Linked DNA regions of Homo sapiens. The protein of the gene in region 1 purifies or fractionates together with the protein of each later gene. This does not show direct contact. Each region holds a gene or a part of one and is shown on either strand. Other genes may lie near its edges.

The links. The genes of interacting proteins can lie anywhere in the genome.
Region 2: the proteins of APTX (region 1) and KIF3A purify together in Homo sapiens (affinity purification with mass spectrometry; 2 studies listed by BioGRID and IntAct, with this or other methods). This does not show direct contact.

What each region holds. Positions count from the first base shown.
Region 1 is NC_000009.12:32,983,509-32,992,600, forward strand, and holds part of APTX (aprataxin), read right to left. Parts: intron 6,412-9,092; exon of another isoform or gene 6,388-6,411; 5' UTR 6,384-6,387; coding exon 6,251-6,383; intron 4,622-6,250; coding exon 4,575-4,621; intron 4,339-4,574; coding exon 4,036-4,338; intron 2,523-4,035; coding exon 2,463-2,522; intron 1,350-2,462; coding exon 1,123-1,349; intron 1-1,122. UniProt on the Homo sapiens protein: DNA-binding protein involved in single-strand DNA break repair, double-strand DNA break repair and base excision repair.
Region 2 is NC_000005.10:132,698,951-132,707,572, forward strand, and holds part of KIF3A (kinesin-like protein KIF3A), read right to left. Parts: intron 7,510-8,622; coding exon 7,501-7,509; intron 4,670-7,500; coding exon 4,513-4,669; intron 4,116-4,512; coding exon 3,935-4,115; intron 3,719-3,934; coding exon 3,608-3,718; intron 3,263-3,607; coding exon 3,137-3,262; intron 1,751-3,136; coding exon 1,697-1,750; intron 1,335-1,696; coding exon 1,266-1,334; intron 346-1,265; coding exon 221-345; intron 1-220. UniProt on the Homo sapiens protein: Microtubule-based anterograde translocator for membranous organelles. Plus end-directed microtubule sliding activity in vitro. Plays a role in primary cilia formation. Plays a role in centriole cohesion and subdistal appendage organization and function.

The DNA of each region.
Region 1 (9,092 bases):
TAAGTTATGCCTCAACTTAAAAGAATCAGTACTGACTAGGGAAAAATCTGGCACAAAGATTTCATTTGGTTCAAGTGGCCAGTAACCTAAGTCATAATTATTCACCTAAATAAAATGTGAGTGTTGGTAGTTAAAAAAAAATAAGCAGAGAAAATCCTGTCACATGCTACAACATGGATAAGACTTGAAGACATTATGTAAAGTAAAATAAGTAAGTAAATAAGTAAAATAAGCCAGTCACAAAAGGACAAATATGTCCTTGTATGATTCCTCTAATATGAGGTACCTAGAGTAGTCAAATTCACAGGGAAGGAAAGTACAATGGTGGTTGCCAGGAGTGGGAGGGGGAAATGGAGAGTTATTATTTAAGGTACAGAGTTTCAATTTGGGAAGAGAAAACAGTTCTGGAGATAGATGGTAGTAATGGTTGCATAGTAATATGAATATAGTAATGCCAATGAATTGTACACTTAAAGATGACTAAAATGTAAATTTTGTTATGTATATTATATCACAGTTTTTTAAAAACAAAATAAAAACTCTAAAATCTAGACTTATCATCTTATTGCTTAAATCAAAGAAATCACGGAGATCCACCTTGCTTGTATTCTTTGAAAGAAATCAGTCATTCCTTTCTGAATCCTTCTGGGCATAAGCCACAGGAAAACAAATTCTATACTTTTCTCTCATTTTATTTTCAAATCCTGGATCTACTACGCTGTCATTACAGAAGTCTATGATGTTTGTTTCCTTCAGAGTAATGGTCCTTAATCATTCTGGGGTTATAGACGCTTTTGAAGAATCTGATAAAAGCCACTGACCACAATTCTTTATCTGAGGATAATGAAGCTGCTTCATCTAGTTCATATATTAGGCTCTCGAAGATTTATATTTTGAGAGGAACAAAGAACCAAATATGACTGAATTATAGGCAGAAGTGGGAACTCAAAGCTTGCATGCAAGTCAGGCAGAGAGGTGGAAGCTTCAGCCCACCTGCTTTGGAAAAACTCCATCCCACTTCCCTGGGTCTCAGTGCAATATGTGCCCTCAGCAAGCCCAGGCTGAATCTATCTGCCCACCTGGACAGAACCAGGAGCCAGCAGCACTACCCACCTGGCTTACCTCATACTCGGAATGGCGTGGTAGCCCAATCGGAAGCGGAGTTTGCTGGACCCAGCAAAATCTACAATCACCTTTTCCCCCACAGTGTGCATATGCTTAAGGAGTTCAAGGTGTTCCCTGGCCACAGCCTTCAGACTGGAAATGGAGGTCCACGGTAAGACCAGCCAATGGTAACGGGCCTTTGGGTATTTATCCTTTATCACCACCACCTGCTCATCTTTGTAAACCTAGCAGAGGGATACAAGAGAAGGAAACAGACATCTACTAAGAATCTTCTGTGTGCCTGGTTGTTATATTCACTAAGTCACTTAATTCCCACAGTCTTGTGCAAATGGTTTTAATAGCCCAGTTTTGAGAGAGGAGAGCACTGAAATTCAGACAGGTTGAGTGTCTTGCACAAGTCATAGTTCCTAAGAGGGAAATCTAGGATTCCAACTCAGATGTGGTTGACTCCAGAGTCTGTTTTCAACCACCACACTACACAGAATACACAGAAGATGCACAGTACAAAATAGTTCCCAAGAATGTGATGTAAAATCTCTGTAGACATAAATTCAAAAGCATCCTTCTCCACTCCAACATGGCAGACTGTGTGACACGTACACGTGGGTTCCAGTGAGCCCTATTAGACCTGCCCCTTGTCAACAAGGAATATAATTGAAGTGGGACTCAAAGGCTCCTCAAGGATGATGCCTGTTTTTTTTTTTTTTTTTTTTTTTTTGAGATGGAGTTTCGCTCTTGTTGCCCAGGCTGGAGTACAATGGTGCAATCTCAGCTCACCGCAACCTCCACCTCCCGGATTCAAGTGATTCTCCTGCCTCAGCCTCTCGAGTAGCTGAGATTACAGGCATGCACCACCATGCCCAGCTAATTTTTTGTATTTTTAGTAGAGACAGGGTTTCTCCATGTTGGTCAGGCTGATCTCGAACTCCTGACCTCAGGTGATCCTCCCGTCTCGGCCTCCCAAAGTGCTGGGATTACAGGGATGTCTGACTGTTAATGCCAGGGCAGCACAGTACTACTGTCACAGTGTATTATCTCTGATGCTCCCCTGAAAGGAACCATACTAAGGTTAATGCAACTTCCCTTAAAGTACCCAGAAGTTTAAAAGGCACAAGGCAGAGGGGATATTCATTTGAAGAACTCAGCTTTCTCTCCAAACAATGACAGCTGCTACTTTATTGCCAATGTGAAAAGCCTCTTGTTCTCACAGAACAGCCCAATAAAATGAATCTCATTCAGAAAGACTGATATCCTTTGATTTCATTTGTAATTAAGACCTCTGTGGAGTGGTCATTTACAACATGAAATGTACTGAAATTCCAAAATTGTATTCTGACCTGCATTTTGGGGTCCTGCATAGAAATCTTCAAGCCTTGACTCCAGTGGCCCAGGGATTCCTAAAAAAAAAACAAAAAAAAAAACAAAAAAAAAAAAAAACAAGCAATGTAAATTACAAATGCCAATAATTAAATTTGGCAACAGTTAATACTGTGTGATAGCACAACTAAACTTGGAAATAAGCTTAGTTTTTGAGAATTAAACAAGATTCACTTGACTCTGCTTCACTCCATTGCCTTCCTATATTCTCTTTTTTTTTGAGACAAAGTCTCACTCTGTCTCACCCAAGCTGGAGTGCAGCGGCGTGATCACTGCAACCTCCGAAGTGATTCTCCTGCCTCAGCCTCCCAAGTAGCTGGGATTACAGGTGCCCACCACCACGCCCAGCTAACTTTTGTATTTTTTAGTAGAGACGGAGTTTCACCAGGTTGGCCATGCTGGTCTTGAACTCCTCACCTCAGGTGATCCACTGGCCTCCACCTCCCCAAGTGCTGGGATTACAGGCGTGAGCCACCACACCCGACCCTATATTCTTTCTTTTTTTTTTTGAGATGGGGTTTCGCTCTTGTTGCCCAGGCTGGAGTACAATGGCGTGATCTCGGCTCACTGCAACCTCTGCCTCCCGGGTTCAAGCGATGCTCCTGCCCAGCCTCTGGAGTTGCTGGGATTATAGGCATGCACCACCACGCCCAGCTAATTTTGTATTTTTAGTAGAGATTAGGTTTTGCCATGTTGGTCAGGCTGGTCTCGAACTCCTGACCTCAGGTGATCTGCCCATCTCGGCCTCCCAAAGTGCTGGGATTACAGGCGTGAGCCAGCACACCCAGCTGTTTTTTATTATTGTTGTTGTTTTTTGAGATGGAGTCTCGCTCTGTCGCCCAGGCTGGAGTGCAGTGGTGCAATCTCAGCTCACTGCAACCTCCGCCTTCCAGGTTCAAGCAATCCTCCCGCCTCAGCCTCCCGAGTAGCTGGGATTACAAGCATGTGTGTACCACCAGGCCCAGCTAATTTTTGTATTTTTAGTAGACATGGAGTTTCACAATGTTTGCCAGGCAGGTCTCAAACTCCTGACCCTCAAGTGATCTGCCCACCTCGGCCTCCCAAAGCGCTGAGATTACAGGCGTGAACCACTGCACCCAGCCAGCCTTCCTATATTCACAGCTGGCTGTTCTAAATGAAGGCGAGAAATGCCAGAGTATGAGTCATACCTTCTTTGCCCTCTCTCACTGCAGCTACAGCCTGACCAATTCTCCACTTTGACATCAGCATATGAATTACATGATCTATGAAAACCTTCTATAGATGCATAAACAACTGATCCACTTTAGTTGTTCAATGTTAAGTACACACTGCCATTATTGTTGTACCTTCAGGTGGCTTACCTCAGGAATTTAAGAAAAAAGCACATAAAGGAACATTCATCCAAATGATTTTCACGCCACAAACAAGTGACTCTTTCATCATGGTTAATAACCCCTCACGCATTTCTGAACTTTAAAGTGTACAAAACAATTAAGCAGTCATTATATTTCATTTCTTCTCCACATCATCTACCAATCACACTACCCTCACCTTTTTGATAGGTGCATCTTTTCCCTTCTTTAGGGGCACAGAGCATTGGCCAGAGTTGCTCCCAGGTTCCAGCCCTGTCCCAGCCTCAGCTTCCTGAGCAGCATCCCTTTCTATAGAATCACTGTTGCCTGATCTCTTTCTCTTCCTGTGTGTTTCCAGGCCAGGGTTCTTTGCCTCTTCCTCAAACTCTACAATATATGGATAAAGTTCATTCACCATGTGGAGAACCTGGCCAGGCTGCAGCTTCACCTCTTGGTCCTTCCCAATTACGACTGAGTCAATGCTGGTGGGATTGACTCCTACCTATGGAATAAACAATCAGAAAATAATTATAATAATAGCAACAGCACCTACAGTAAGATAGCCACTGCTATGTTAACCACTTACTATATGCCAAGCACCTTGCCTTATGTTCACCTATATTACTCCATCACTTCCATACATGACAGAGAAGCCTTCACTGGCTGGCACAGACACTCTAAAGTCAACAGCATAAGAAAATCATCGAGTATAAAATTCCAAGTTATAAATACACCTACCTGCTTTACCTTGACATATCCCTTGTTACACTCTGCTTTCAACTGTACTGAAAGAGATTGGAAAAAGTTAAACACAAATGCAACAAAGAACCAGGCACTTGCTCCTATCTTCCCTAAAGAAAACAAGCTTCACTACAGGCGGCAGCTGAACAGGTGGTGTTTCCTTAAAGGCCTATTAGCAATCACCTGTTATTGCAGGTGGCTGGAGCTCCAAATCCTACCAATTTCTAAAGGTTTAAATCCTTCCATAAAATGTCCAACAGCGTACATACTCCCTTAGCTATTGCCAAGATCCCTATGAGGCAGCTTCAATTAATCCCCACAAGTTTCCCTATTCCAGAACCCCTGGCCTGCTCATGATCACAGACTCTGCCGCCAGAAAAGAAGACCTGTTTCTCCCAGCCTGGGCAGCATGGCAATACCCCGTCTCTACAAAAAAATACAAAAATTAGCCAGGTGTGGTGGCACATGCCTGTAGTCCCAGCTACTTGGGAGACTGAGGTGGGAGAATCACTTGAGCCCCAGGAGGTGGAGGTTGCAGTGAGTCAAGATCGCACCACTACACTCCAGCCTGGGCAACAGAGTGAGACCCTATCTCAGGAGGAAAAAAAAAAAAAAAAAAAAAAAAAAAGATCCATTTCTCACACGAACTCTTGACCAAGGATTAAATCAGGCTTCCACTATTATTTTGGAAAAACAACAACTATTAGATGCTTTAAAAGATAAAACAGTAAAAGACACATTCCTGGAAAACAGAAACTCAGGTGGCTTTGGGTAGAAGGAGTGGAAAGAATGTTCTAGAAAGATGATTGCAGAGACAGAACAATCTGAGCATGTGTGAGAAGTGGTAACATTAAGCATTCCTGTTCTGATAAATGAACAAGGTATCTGGAGTTGAGACAGGGAGGAAAGAAGAACCACCATAGCTGCTCCCCAGAGAGGACAGGGTGCCACATACATGCCCCTTCAGTTGCTGTTGTGAGGAAGGGAACAGAGAGAGAAGCAGCCACTGCTTCTGCATCTTGGGCCTACTCAGCTCAAGCATGGCTTTGTATCCCTCCACTTAGATTAACTCATATAGGAAAGATCATAATCAGTGCTGCAGATGCCAACTCTCTAAGTTCAGAACCCTTGGGAAACCTTGCTGTGGGGGGGTCACACTCCAGCCAGCAGTGTGCATGTTTACAGGAAAAAACAAGGTACATGGTAAGGATTTTTTTCTGAGGGCAAGGACTTTCATGTTATTAAACCCTAAGACAAGTGCTAGATGCCACTGTCTCATAATACTTTGCGTGAAGCAATATGTAAAGGACGGCACTACCCCATTACTTCTCAGAAAGACATGGTTTCACCTGTAGACTCCAGAGTTTACATCTTGCTGCCCATTGAGCAATGTCCCTGGGGAAAGGAGGGCAGGACTCAATTCCACCATCCCATGGTAACAGTATGAACTTGACTGCTCCCAACCTTCACCCACCCTGCCTTGAACATTATCACATTGGGAGGGCAGAATCAGGAATAAATAGGGCCCTGGTGTTGGCTAAAAGAGCTCAGTTCCTGAGCTGTATTTTTGGCAGACAATAGATTTTCCATCAAGATCACCCAGAAAATATGCATCTTTGGTTATCACTATCCCACATAACCATAGTAATCTCCACATTTCTATGACCAGTTACCTTGCTGTCGAGAACATTTCTTATCAGTGATCTTGGTCTCTGGGCCACGCCCAATCACAACTGCTTCCAAATGTGGAAGTCTGATTCGCTGGTGCCGGCTGTCCTGTCTCACCAACCAGCACACCCGCATCATCACTCTAAGGGACAAAACAAAAGAATCACTAGAAAAACAGATCCACTAGCACGAGTCCTCCAGGGCCACACCCGGTGCCACCACGCATGTGATCTACCAGCTGTTCATCTTGAGGCAAGTGACTTCACCACCCTAGTCTCAATTTCCTCACCTATAAACCATGATAATGATGGGACTCAGGAGGCTGTTGTGAAAATTAAATGAGATAATGTGAGTAAGTATTTACCTCCCTGCCTGAATCATGCTAGGCAATCAAATATTTATTACACATTTATTTATTTATTTATTTTATTTATTTTGAGACAGAGTCTCGCTGTGTCCCCCAGGCTGGCACGCAGTGGCACAATCTCGGCTCACGGCAACCTCCACCTTCCGGGTTCAAGCAATTCTCCTGCCTTAGCCTCCTGAGTAGCTGGGATTACAGGCACCCGCCACCACACCTGGCTAATTTTTGTATTTTTAGTGGAGACAGGGTTTCACCATGTTGGCCAGGCTGGTCTCAAACTTCTGACCTCAGGTGATCCACCCGCCTCTGCCTCCCAAAGTGCTGGGATTACAAGCATAAGCCATCACACCTGGCCTGTTACACATGTATTGATATGTGCTGGACATTAGGCTACATATTGAAAGTCAAAGGATGAATAAAACAGGGACATTGTCCCTGTCCTTGAGGAGCCTGGAGTGCAGTAGGACAGACAGAATCATATACCAATATATACAATATAATGTGATAAACACTACAAGAAGAGAGTAACCAAATATGGCATTAGCCCAGTAAAAGGACTGACTGACTCTTGTGGAGAATATTTTAAAAGGCTTCACGAGGAAGGGATATTAATGTGCGGTTTTAAAGGATGAGAAGGAGTTTGCCTGCCAGAGAACTAAGGACATAAAAAAGATGTTCTCTAGTGCTTAGGTGTCTTTATGTGTCATAGGTTTTCCTTCCCTGTCATGACATACTGATGTTAGAACAATATATTTCACTCCCATCTGCCAGGAGACAGTCATAATAAATATGCAAATCTACAATTTCTTTACTTTTTTTTTTTTCTGAGACGGAGCTTCACTCTTGTTGCCCAGGCTGGAGTGCAATGGCACAATCTTGGCTCACTGCAACCTCTGCCTCCTGGGTTCAAGCGATTCTCCTGCCTCAGCCTCCCGAGTAGCTGGGATTATGGGCATGTGTCACCACAGTCAGCTAATTTTATATTTTTAGTAGAGACTAGGTTTCTCCATGTTGGTCAGTCTGGTCTCGACCTCCTGGCCTCAGGTGATCCGCCTGCCTCGGCCTCCCAAAGTGCTGGGATTACAGGCATGAGCCACCGTGCCCGGCCGCAAACCTACAATTTCTAAAGTGTGAATGTGACAATTTTGTGCAATACGCAACGCGCAAAACAATGGAAGTGCTGATATTCTTTTGAAAAACAACCCTTATGGCCATGTGGACTATCAGTAAAAGAGAAAGAGACAAGAAATTCAGAAGAGAGATGAGACCTCAACAATGGCCGAAGCAAAGGGGATGGAGAGCAAGAAGAGCCAGGAGAAATCTGGAAGACATACTTAATTACTGATGACATTTGGGGAATGACAAAGGAATAAAAGGACACACTGGCCAGGTGCGGTGTCTCAGGCCTGTAATCCCAGCACTTTGGGAGCCCAAGGCAGGCGGATCACGAGGTCAGGAGTTTGTGACCAGCCTAGCCAACGTGGTAAAACCCTATCTCTACTAAAAATACAAAAATTAGCCAGGTGTGGTGGCAGGTGCCTCCCACCTACTCGGGAGGCTGAGGCAGGAAAATTGCTTGAACCCAGGAGGCGGAGGTTGCAGTGAGCAGAGATCGCACCATTGTATTCCAGCCTGGGCGATAGGGCAAGGCTCCATCTCAAGAAAAAAAAAAAAAGGCGAGACACTCACCAAAGACTTCAAATTTGGAAGATGCCCATTAACAAAAATGAAAAATACACAAGGAGACATAATTTGGGGATAAAAAGGAAAGTGAAGAGAGAAGGACCAATTTCATATTGAAATGTAATTATTTTAAGTTGCCTGTGGAAGATCCAAGACTCAAGCTGTGATATGTGGGTATGAAGCTCAAGAGAGGGGAATGGACTAAATGCATATATTTGAGAGGCATCAACATGTCACAGAGGCTGAGGCAAAGAGAGAGAGGATGAGATCACCCAATGAGGTGAAACAGGGAATTATGGGCAGAGAGAGATTGCCTCTCTAGACTCCAGACTCTTATCAGTGCTCAAGCCTCTAACATGCCTCTCCCGGAAACCTGCCTATAGTCAAGGCAGCACATATGCCCTCTGCACAAGTTTCATGTCCATAAGCAAAGAAAAAAGAAACCCGATTTTTAAAAATCAGTTTCATTACCATCTGCAAAGACAAGACAATGCAAGGCAAAGTGAGCAAATGACAGCTGAGGAGATGCAAATTCAAATGAATAAGATTAGTGCGAGTATATGAGTACTAAGGAGGTAAAAAGTCCTGTATTAGCCAGTACAGGCTTCCAGAAACCTCCTGGTTAGAGATGGCTAGGAGCCAAGGGGACTGATAAAGAAGAAATGGAGTGGGAGGGGCCATTCCATTTTAAAAAGCACAAGTGACAACACAGATTTCGGCAATGGCAAGCCATAGGTCGGGGTAAAAGCAGACTTAGTTGGCTGAACCAGAGGAGCTGCCTCGGAGAGTCACAAAAAAAG
Region 2 (8,622 bases), on another chromosome or scaffold:
TGGTCTCAAACTCCTGACCTCAAATGATCCACCTGCCTCGGCCTCCCAAAATGCTGGGATTACAGGCGTGAGCCACTGTGCCCAGCCAGGAATTTGATTTTTAATAAATCAGCCAAAATATGTATCATGTTTTAACTAAATAAATTTTAACTTCCTGTACATGTATCTAATTAGAATACCTCAATGCCTTCGTTTTACCAGATTCAAGGACAGTCCTTACCTTCTCCCTGTCTTTGGCCTTGCTTTCCCCTTTGAAGTTCGTGGTCTTTCTAGTTTCATCAAAGACTGACGCAGACTCTCCTCAGTATAGGCAAGATACACGTGAGAAAGGTCCACCTCAAAGGGCTAAGTAAAAGAAACAAACACAAAGCACTCTTAAGGCAAAGAGTTAAAGCCAGATTTGGGGGAAGATTTAAAATACTGAATAAACTCCTTGATCAAACCCACAGAAGCTAAAACCAAAGAAATGTCTAATGACATCATCTTCTAATCCCAGTATCTAAAATGTACTTAATAAAGGTTGGTGAGTAAGAAGCCCTGACACACTATAAATTTCCTTGGACATAAAAACTGTTGCTGTTTTTCTTAAAGCTGCCCCCTCTTCTTCTTCTTTTTTTTTTTTTTTTGAGACGGAGTCTCACTCTGTCGCCCAGGCTGGAGTGCAGTAGCGCGATCTGGGCTCACTGCAAGCTCCACCTCCTGGGTTCACGCCATTCTCCTGCCTCAGCCTCCTGAGTAGCTGGGACTACAGGCACCCGCCACCACGCCCGGCTAATTTTTTTTGTATTTTTTTAGTAGAGACGGGGTTTCACTGTGTTAGCCAGGATGGTCTTGATCTCCTGACCTCGTGATCCACCCGCCTCGGCCTCCCAAAGTGCTGGGATTACAGGCGTGAGCCACCACGCCCGGCCCGCTCCCTCTTCTTCTTGACCTAGGACTAGAACTAGCTTTGAAGAGAAAGAAAGACACATTCTAGTCTCCACCCATAATCCTACGACCCAGAGTGGTAGTGAAAAGAGGACTCCAAAGAGTGAGTCCATGCCCCTCTTGTGGTGGGAATAAGCCTGACATCAAGACTGATGGTAAGCAGAACTGTCCTCCTCATCACCCCATCCTAGAGCCTTTATTCCCAAAAGTATCAGCCCATTTTTCAGCAGAGCTGATTAACAGATATCAAGTTGATAATACAATTTAATGACTCATATTCCTATAAAGAAACAACAGTAGTTTTGTGTTTTGTTTTGTTTTTTTTTAAGTACTCTTACATCTTTCTCCTTTTTATCAGGTACTGGGGTTTGCTTCCTCATGTTATTTCCTGTATAAGCAACACATTTCTCAAAAAAAGAAAAGGGAGAGACAGAGAAATGTCTTAATTAGTAATCAATACTGTGAGTTAGGCAAATAACTGAGAAATCCTAACATTACACTAGTAAAACATGATTTGAATGCTAGAGCAGAAAGGGCCCCAGAGGTCACTTAGTCCCACATAGCCCCTAACTCTGACCATTTCCACCCAGACCATGATCTGTATGTTACAATTAATTACATGGAATTAGAAAAATATTTTATCTGCCCTACTGGATTCTCATCTGATTCATCTACTGGACCATGTTCCTCCCCACTGTAGCCAGCACAATTTCTAGACCATAGGAAGTACTCTTTAATTATTACGTGAAAGAATGAAGGTAATACTCACTAGCTGCCATTCTCCTATGTCTTCATTCCAATGGACATAGTTTTCAATCATTTCCTTTTAAAAGGGTGAAAGATAGCCTATTTTTAATATTTAATAACATCTAAAATATTGAAGTCATAAAACTAAAATCTTAATAACATTGAGTAATAAAAGTCTCAAAACATTATATACTGATATAACCTTTTTATAAATTCTAAAATACATATTTCTTAGGAATGCATGCAGATGAAATAAAACTAAATGAAAATGAAAAAACAACAGAATGAGAAACTTGGGAATCAAGATAATGATTACCTTGGGTTGGAAGAGGCAAAGGAATGAAATAAGGGAAGGGGAAACTGGTTAGAAGTAGTTATTATCAGGGTCCTAGATATTGTTTTGGGTGATGAGTTCATTACAAAATAACTAAATAAAAGCAGGCCATCCAAGGACCAATAAGGAGAATGTACCATGAACCCAGGACTAATTCCATGTACCTGAGGTCCAAAAAAAAAAAAAATGACTAAGACTTATTTTCAGACAAATTTCTTAAAACTGTATTGAGATTCAAAACAGATTTTTAAAAAATTGGCCAGGCATGGTGGTTAACACCTGTAATCCCATCATTTTGGGAGGCCAAAACGGGCAGATCAACCTGAGCTCAGGAACTCAAGACCAGCCTGGCCAACATGGCTAAACCCCATCTCTACTAAATATACAAAAATTAGCTGGGTGTGGTGGTACACGCCTGTAATCCCAGCTACTCGGGAGGCAGAGGCATGAGAATCACTTGAACCCGGGAAGTGAAGGTTGCAGGGAGCCGAGATTGCACCACTGCACTCCAGCCTGGGCAACAAAGTGACTCTGTCTCCCTGACAAAAAAAAAAAAAAAAAAAATCATGTTAAAGTTTACCAAAATGCACTGGAAAGACAAATTTTGGATTAAAAAAAATAGAGGCTGAGATTTTAAAATTATACTAGTACTAAGAATTAGCATCCATCTGGAGATGAATGATGGTACAGGTTGCACAACAATGTGAATGTCCTAAATGCCATTGAACTGCACACTTAAAATAGCTAAGATGGTAAATTTCATGTTATCTATATTTTACCATATACACACACACACACAAAGAATCAGCACCCACAGCAGGGAGAAAAAGGCAGCACAGAGGTTCCATTTATTCTACTTGTATGATAATGGGCGCTGAATGAAGGAATGGGACCTACACCTTGATTCTGATCACATATACATGAATCTGAGTTCGTCTAAAAGGCTAGATACTCAAACAGAGATTATGTATTAAAAGTTAACAACTAAAGTGAAATGTGATGGCATTTGTTCAAAAAATTGTACATTCAATAACTGAAGTATTAAGTATTTATCATCAGTTAAATTAGAAATCTTTGTTCCTTAATCCCAGTCAAGCGACTATCTCGGTCAGAGAACTTCCTTTTTACCTGATAATCCCGAGGTATAAAGTTATCAATAATAAGCATCTGAAGTCGAAGCTCCCGGCTAAGTTGCCGAATGTTCTCCAGTAGGCCTTCAATTTCCCTCTGATGTTCTTGTTGGAGATCAGCCATCTACCAGAAAATCCATAAAAATATTATGAACAAACAAGACTTTAACTACAAAACAGCACCATCTCACATAGGATGCTTGTCTAAGAAACCTTGTGAGAGCTTACCTAGTTCTTTTATAAAAATGATAAACAGCGTGACACTATCAGCATCTATTCTACACTATTTGTTAAGGTTGAAAAGAAACAATTTAGACTAATAGATAAAATTAAAAATTGCACATAAAGAAATATTTTATTTCTTTTAAATTATAAGCTCACATTATGATTATTTATAAATTCTTAATCAAAGAACTCCCTTTTAAAAAATCCAGAACTGCATTAGTAGGTAATTTCTAAGAGAACCAACCTCTGACTTTGCAGCCATCAGCATAGTCCAAACTTTCTTTAACTTCTTGGTCTTTCCCTGTGCTTCCTCTTGCAAACTGGTATATTTTTCTTCAATATCCAAGCGTTCTTGCTATGACAAAAATTAGTAAACTTCAGAATAAATTTCTTTGTAAAATCAAATATCTAATTCTTTAACAAATGACATAAATGTTTAGCAAATCTGATCTTCAAAGCAATCCATAAATATGCTTTAAAATTTCAATACGATTATAGATATTTAGCTTTCCACTAGAAAAGTTAAATCTCTCTGGCAAAATACCAAACTAAAAACAGAAAGTCACATTACCTCTTTTTCCTCAAGTTCTCTGCGAAGTTGCTCTGCTCTTTTCCTCCTTTCTTCCAGTTCCATGTTAGATTCTTCAAGAAGTTTCTCTTGTTCCTCAGCTTTGGCCAACAAGTCAACCCCACCAACAATTACCTTCTTTTCCAGGGCAGATAATTTTTCCAGCAAAGACTGATGCTCTTGTCTGTTGATTAGAATGAGAATACTCTATATTCACTGATGATCTATTATTCTACTAATATCATTTCCCAAAATTTAAAATTTGGATATACAATTTCAAAATAGAAATATAATTATGTAACATCTCTGCCAAATTACACCACTGTGTAGTATCGATTTCTAACTTAATTTATAACTCATTCTAATTCATTGATATGTTTTCCTATCACACGGAAATAAAATAACCAAAATAGATCTAGTTTTTAGAAATACACTATATACAATGGACCCTTCTATCCAAAATAGCTACACTGGAGACAAAAATCCAAGCTTTTAATTACTATTCAATTTTCCTATTTTATATATCCTAGGAAAAAACAGAAATTTAAATCATGAATTCATCTCAATTCAATAATACTCACTGGGCTTTAAGAAGATCTTTTTCCCGTTTCTCTAATTCAGCTCTAGCCTTGTTTCTTTCTTCTTCTTCCATGTCGAGCTTTGTTTCAAGTGCTTTTCTCTCCTCATCAATTTTTGCTTGCATTTCAATCATCTTGTCTGGGGAGACTTTCTTTTTTCCTATTTGAATCATTTAATTGCAACAATCACTAAAATGAATCAATGTTTCAGACTTATATAAATTACCTCCTTCAATATAGAAATGCCTACACTCCTCAATAATACAAAACCAATTATCAATATTTTAAGGAAATCAAACCAATAATATCATGCATTTCCATTTATTATGCTCCTAGAACTTTATAACTCATTGCTAAATTCAAACTGTTGTCCAATTGTACAATGATAACTAAGAACAAAAGCGAAAGAGAAGCAAAATAGATGAGCTAAATAATAGGAAAAGAAAGATTAACAGGAAAGCCAAATTAAAAAATATATATGTCCCCAGATAACAAATATAGGTTAAAAAAAAAGCAACATGATTCTTCAGTTACTTTTTCCTGATAACCAAGTATAAAATCAAGCGACTCCTTAAAATATCTTCCCCAAGTTCACATAAAACAAGTGAATAAAAGTCATATATAGGTATAAAATGCACAGATGAAAATATCAGGCAGAATTTACATCAAGTAGTTTTAATATATTTTTCAGAGTTTTTCTAAAATTTTTGTTTAATAACATTAAAGTATTTTATTTCACAGCATACTTTTAAAGGAAAAAATTCTATACTATGTAATTATGTAACAGTTACATACACAGTAATTAACCAAGCATTTCACAGTTGCTGAGCTGTCAAGATATATCATCATACACTAAAGGAACAACTAAAATAGCTTGTTATTATGTCAAACTCAGGACCCGAAGGCTCCCTAAGTCAGAGTAAACATGCCAAGTGTCAAATATAAGTAGAAATACTACCAAATAATAAAGCTGGAATATGGCTTCCAATTGATTATTTTTGCTAATAATGTCTAATAAAGTATTTTACATACATGTAATAGGTGCTCAAAGAAAGTTTATTAATGAATTTCAAAATAACAAAATCCAAATGAAAAAGAGAAAATAAAACTAGCTTATTAAACTGGTGATGAAACTGAATCAAAGACAATTCATTTCTGGTCATACAGTTTCTTAGAAACATACATTCCTTCAGAAAACCAATAACACTTTTCACAGAATTGGTCTGAGGCTCTCCTAGAACCTTTCCGTCATTCTTAACTTCCTTCCCAAAGAACTACAGAAGAAGAGTGTAAATCATAAGAGTGTATAAATTGTTAATGTCTCCACCCAAAAGCTAACCCCCACCACCTAACAAGGAAAAAGAACTGAAAAATAATTATGATGGAGATATATAACTGAGTATATTTTTTCAGGAACTATGAAATGAAGAATCATTAATAGGCTTTAACTCTTTATGACAAAATTATGTAAAAAACTCTAGGGTTTAAAATACATTATTTGTATAGAACTGTAAGTCCAGAGCAAACCTAAGACACAAGACAAATGAAATAAAAGAGTAAATAAAAGCACTGATCCAAATTCATGCTTTGGTGTGGTGTGATTCATTGCATTCCAAAAGTCAGGATGTAGACTGATTCTATTTACTGGCTTGTTTGGCACAGTCATCTGTATTGAATCTTTTGAATTAGCTGTTAAAAAATAACTTTAAAATAATTTAACTACTATTCCCAAACTACTTATCCCATCAGTCATACTATGTCTTAGAAATTTGAAGGAGAAAAGTATCAGTTCAGGTATATAGTAAGTATACGCATTTAAAAAAGTGTAACTTCCTTTCCACCTGAGAATTATAAATATTTAAAGACAAAATGGGACATATGTTAAGACAAAAATAATAAATGCATGAAGACACTGATGCTAACAGTATAGAGGAAATGATCTAATCAACATATGAACAGTAGTATGTACAGGCTTCAAGGGTTCTAATTGTTTCAATAGTTAAAAACAGTTTCAAAACCCATTAAGAAGCAGTAAAATAAAAAGTTTTTTAAATAAAAAGATTTTACATGTGGAAATACAAAGACACATAACTGTTCATGCATTAATGCATTACATTAGTAATTTAAAACCATTCAGGTATGTTTCCAAACTGATACTTTAGCAGCAAAAATCTTATTGTGGTCTTGTAACACTTTCATGAAGACAATCAAAGATATATAGCCAGGGTTAGTTTCAAAAGCCTAATATTTAAGTAACATATTACTTTAGCCAGAATCACTCTGACAAATCATTATATTTCTCCACAAATAATATTTTAAGCTAAATGTGAATATGTGCTAACTCTCCTAACCAGGTATTTAAAAATGTGACATCAGTAAAAGTCACTTTTATATGTATTTTTCAAAGGACTTTTTTTTAAAAAAACCTTCTTAAACCAATCAAACAAAAAAGAAATCTATTTCTAACAATGCATGATAAAATTCAGCACAAAATTTCAGGTAAATAAATATTTTTAAAAGTTAATGCCATAAACAGTATTTAACTAAACCAGACATAAGTAGCAACATTTTTTTATTGCCCTTTGCCATGTGCTCTAACCAATATTGTGAACGTTAACCGGCCAGGGTAAGTCAAAGGGGAAGAACTTCAGGGCAGTCCTAATTGAATTAATTTCATTTTTATTACATAAGCAACCACGGCATAACCAGGTATTTGATTCTTGGCTTTAAGAAAAAAGGAGAAAAATGTTTGAATGTGAAATAATTTACACTTGTATTTCCAAACTTTGGCTTAATGAGTCTTTAAGAATTTAGGGAAAAAAATGAAGTTCTTTTTAAAAGCTAAAGTTGAAAGATTGTTAAAAATACAAAAGATAGATACTTACCTGGTAAAAAAACTACTAAATTTTAAAAATTTAATGTATTTAAATAACATAGTTCTTTATAGGATAAATAATTGTACCATGTGGAGTGCAAATCAATCACACCAACCTGCTTGATCTTGCAATAAGAAGTAGTAAGCAAATCGCAGACAGGAAGCAATACGCACAGAGATGAGGAGGAAAAAAAGGAAAACATTATTTCTCTTGTGAAACAAAGAAAAATATATAATAGCATTCATTTAAGTGTAGAAATAAAAATCAAACCGTTATCAAAACTGAAATAGAGCCCATGTAAAAAGAAAGCATATTCAACACAACGAGAGATGTCATTTAAGCAAGAATATTAAAGTTAACTTAGTCTTAGATTATAACTCAAGTCAATCTCAAGATCTCACACTGATTCCCCAAGTCCTGCAAAGGTCACAGTTCAACACCATGTGGTTATGCTAACAGAAGACATGGAATTAGGAACCTGCTAAGATCTGGGAAGTAATCTAAAAGGGCAAAACAGAAAATTAAGGCAATTTTAACAACTAGTACATTTAAAGTGACAAAATTCACACTGTCCATATCAAAAATGTCCCAATTCAATATTTCTTTTAGTATATGGATCTATTATAGGCATGCTTCACTTTAAGAAAATCTAACACAAAAACCTGAACCAATCCAACAGATAAATTAGATTACAGTAATTTCCACTGATTATTTGATTAACAGAAAGGTCTAATGAAGAATTTTTAAAGACACAAGTTCTCCCAATACATCCGATTTCCCAACCGGATTAAGGGCTTTTTTTTTTTTCCAGAAAATAAAATTATTACATAAAATGAAGTATACCTGTACAGTAACAAACTTACATTCCTTCTATTAGTAGATTTTTAAGGGTAATTATAAACAATGATTCTACAGGAGTCACTGCCAATTAAGGACTCAAGCAAGAAACACCTTTTAAAAAGGCCATTGAGATATTTAAAAGGGAAGGTACACACAGCAACCACATGCTAGGACAACCATCTCTCCACTTCACCAACACGCCCACATTACAAGAAAAAAATTATGTGCTAGGTACGCAAATAGGAATTAAAACTTCTTGAATTGAACAAAGTACAACTCATTTCATAACATACTTTCATATAACTACTCTTTAAGAATTAAGTTTTAAAACAGAAAACTAAATTGCAACGCCTCCCACTCAAATATTTTCGCATATTTCACAGTTTATTATACAAAG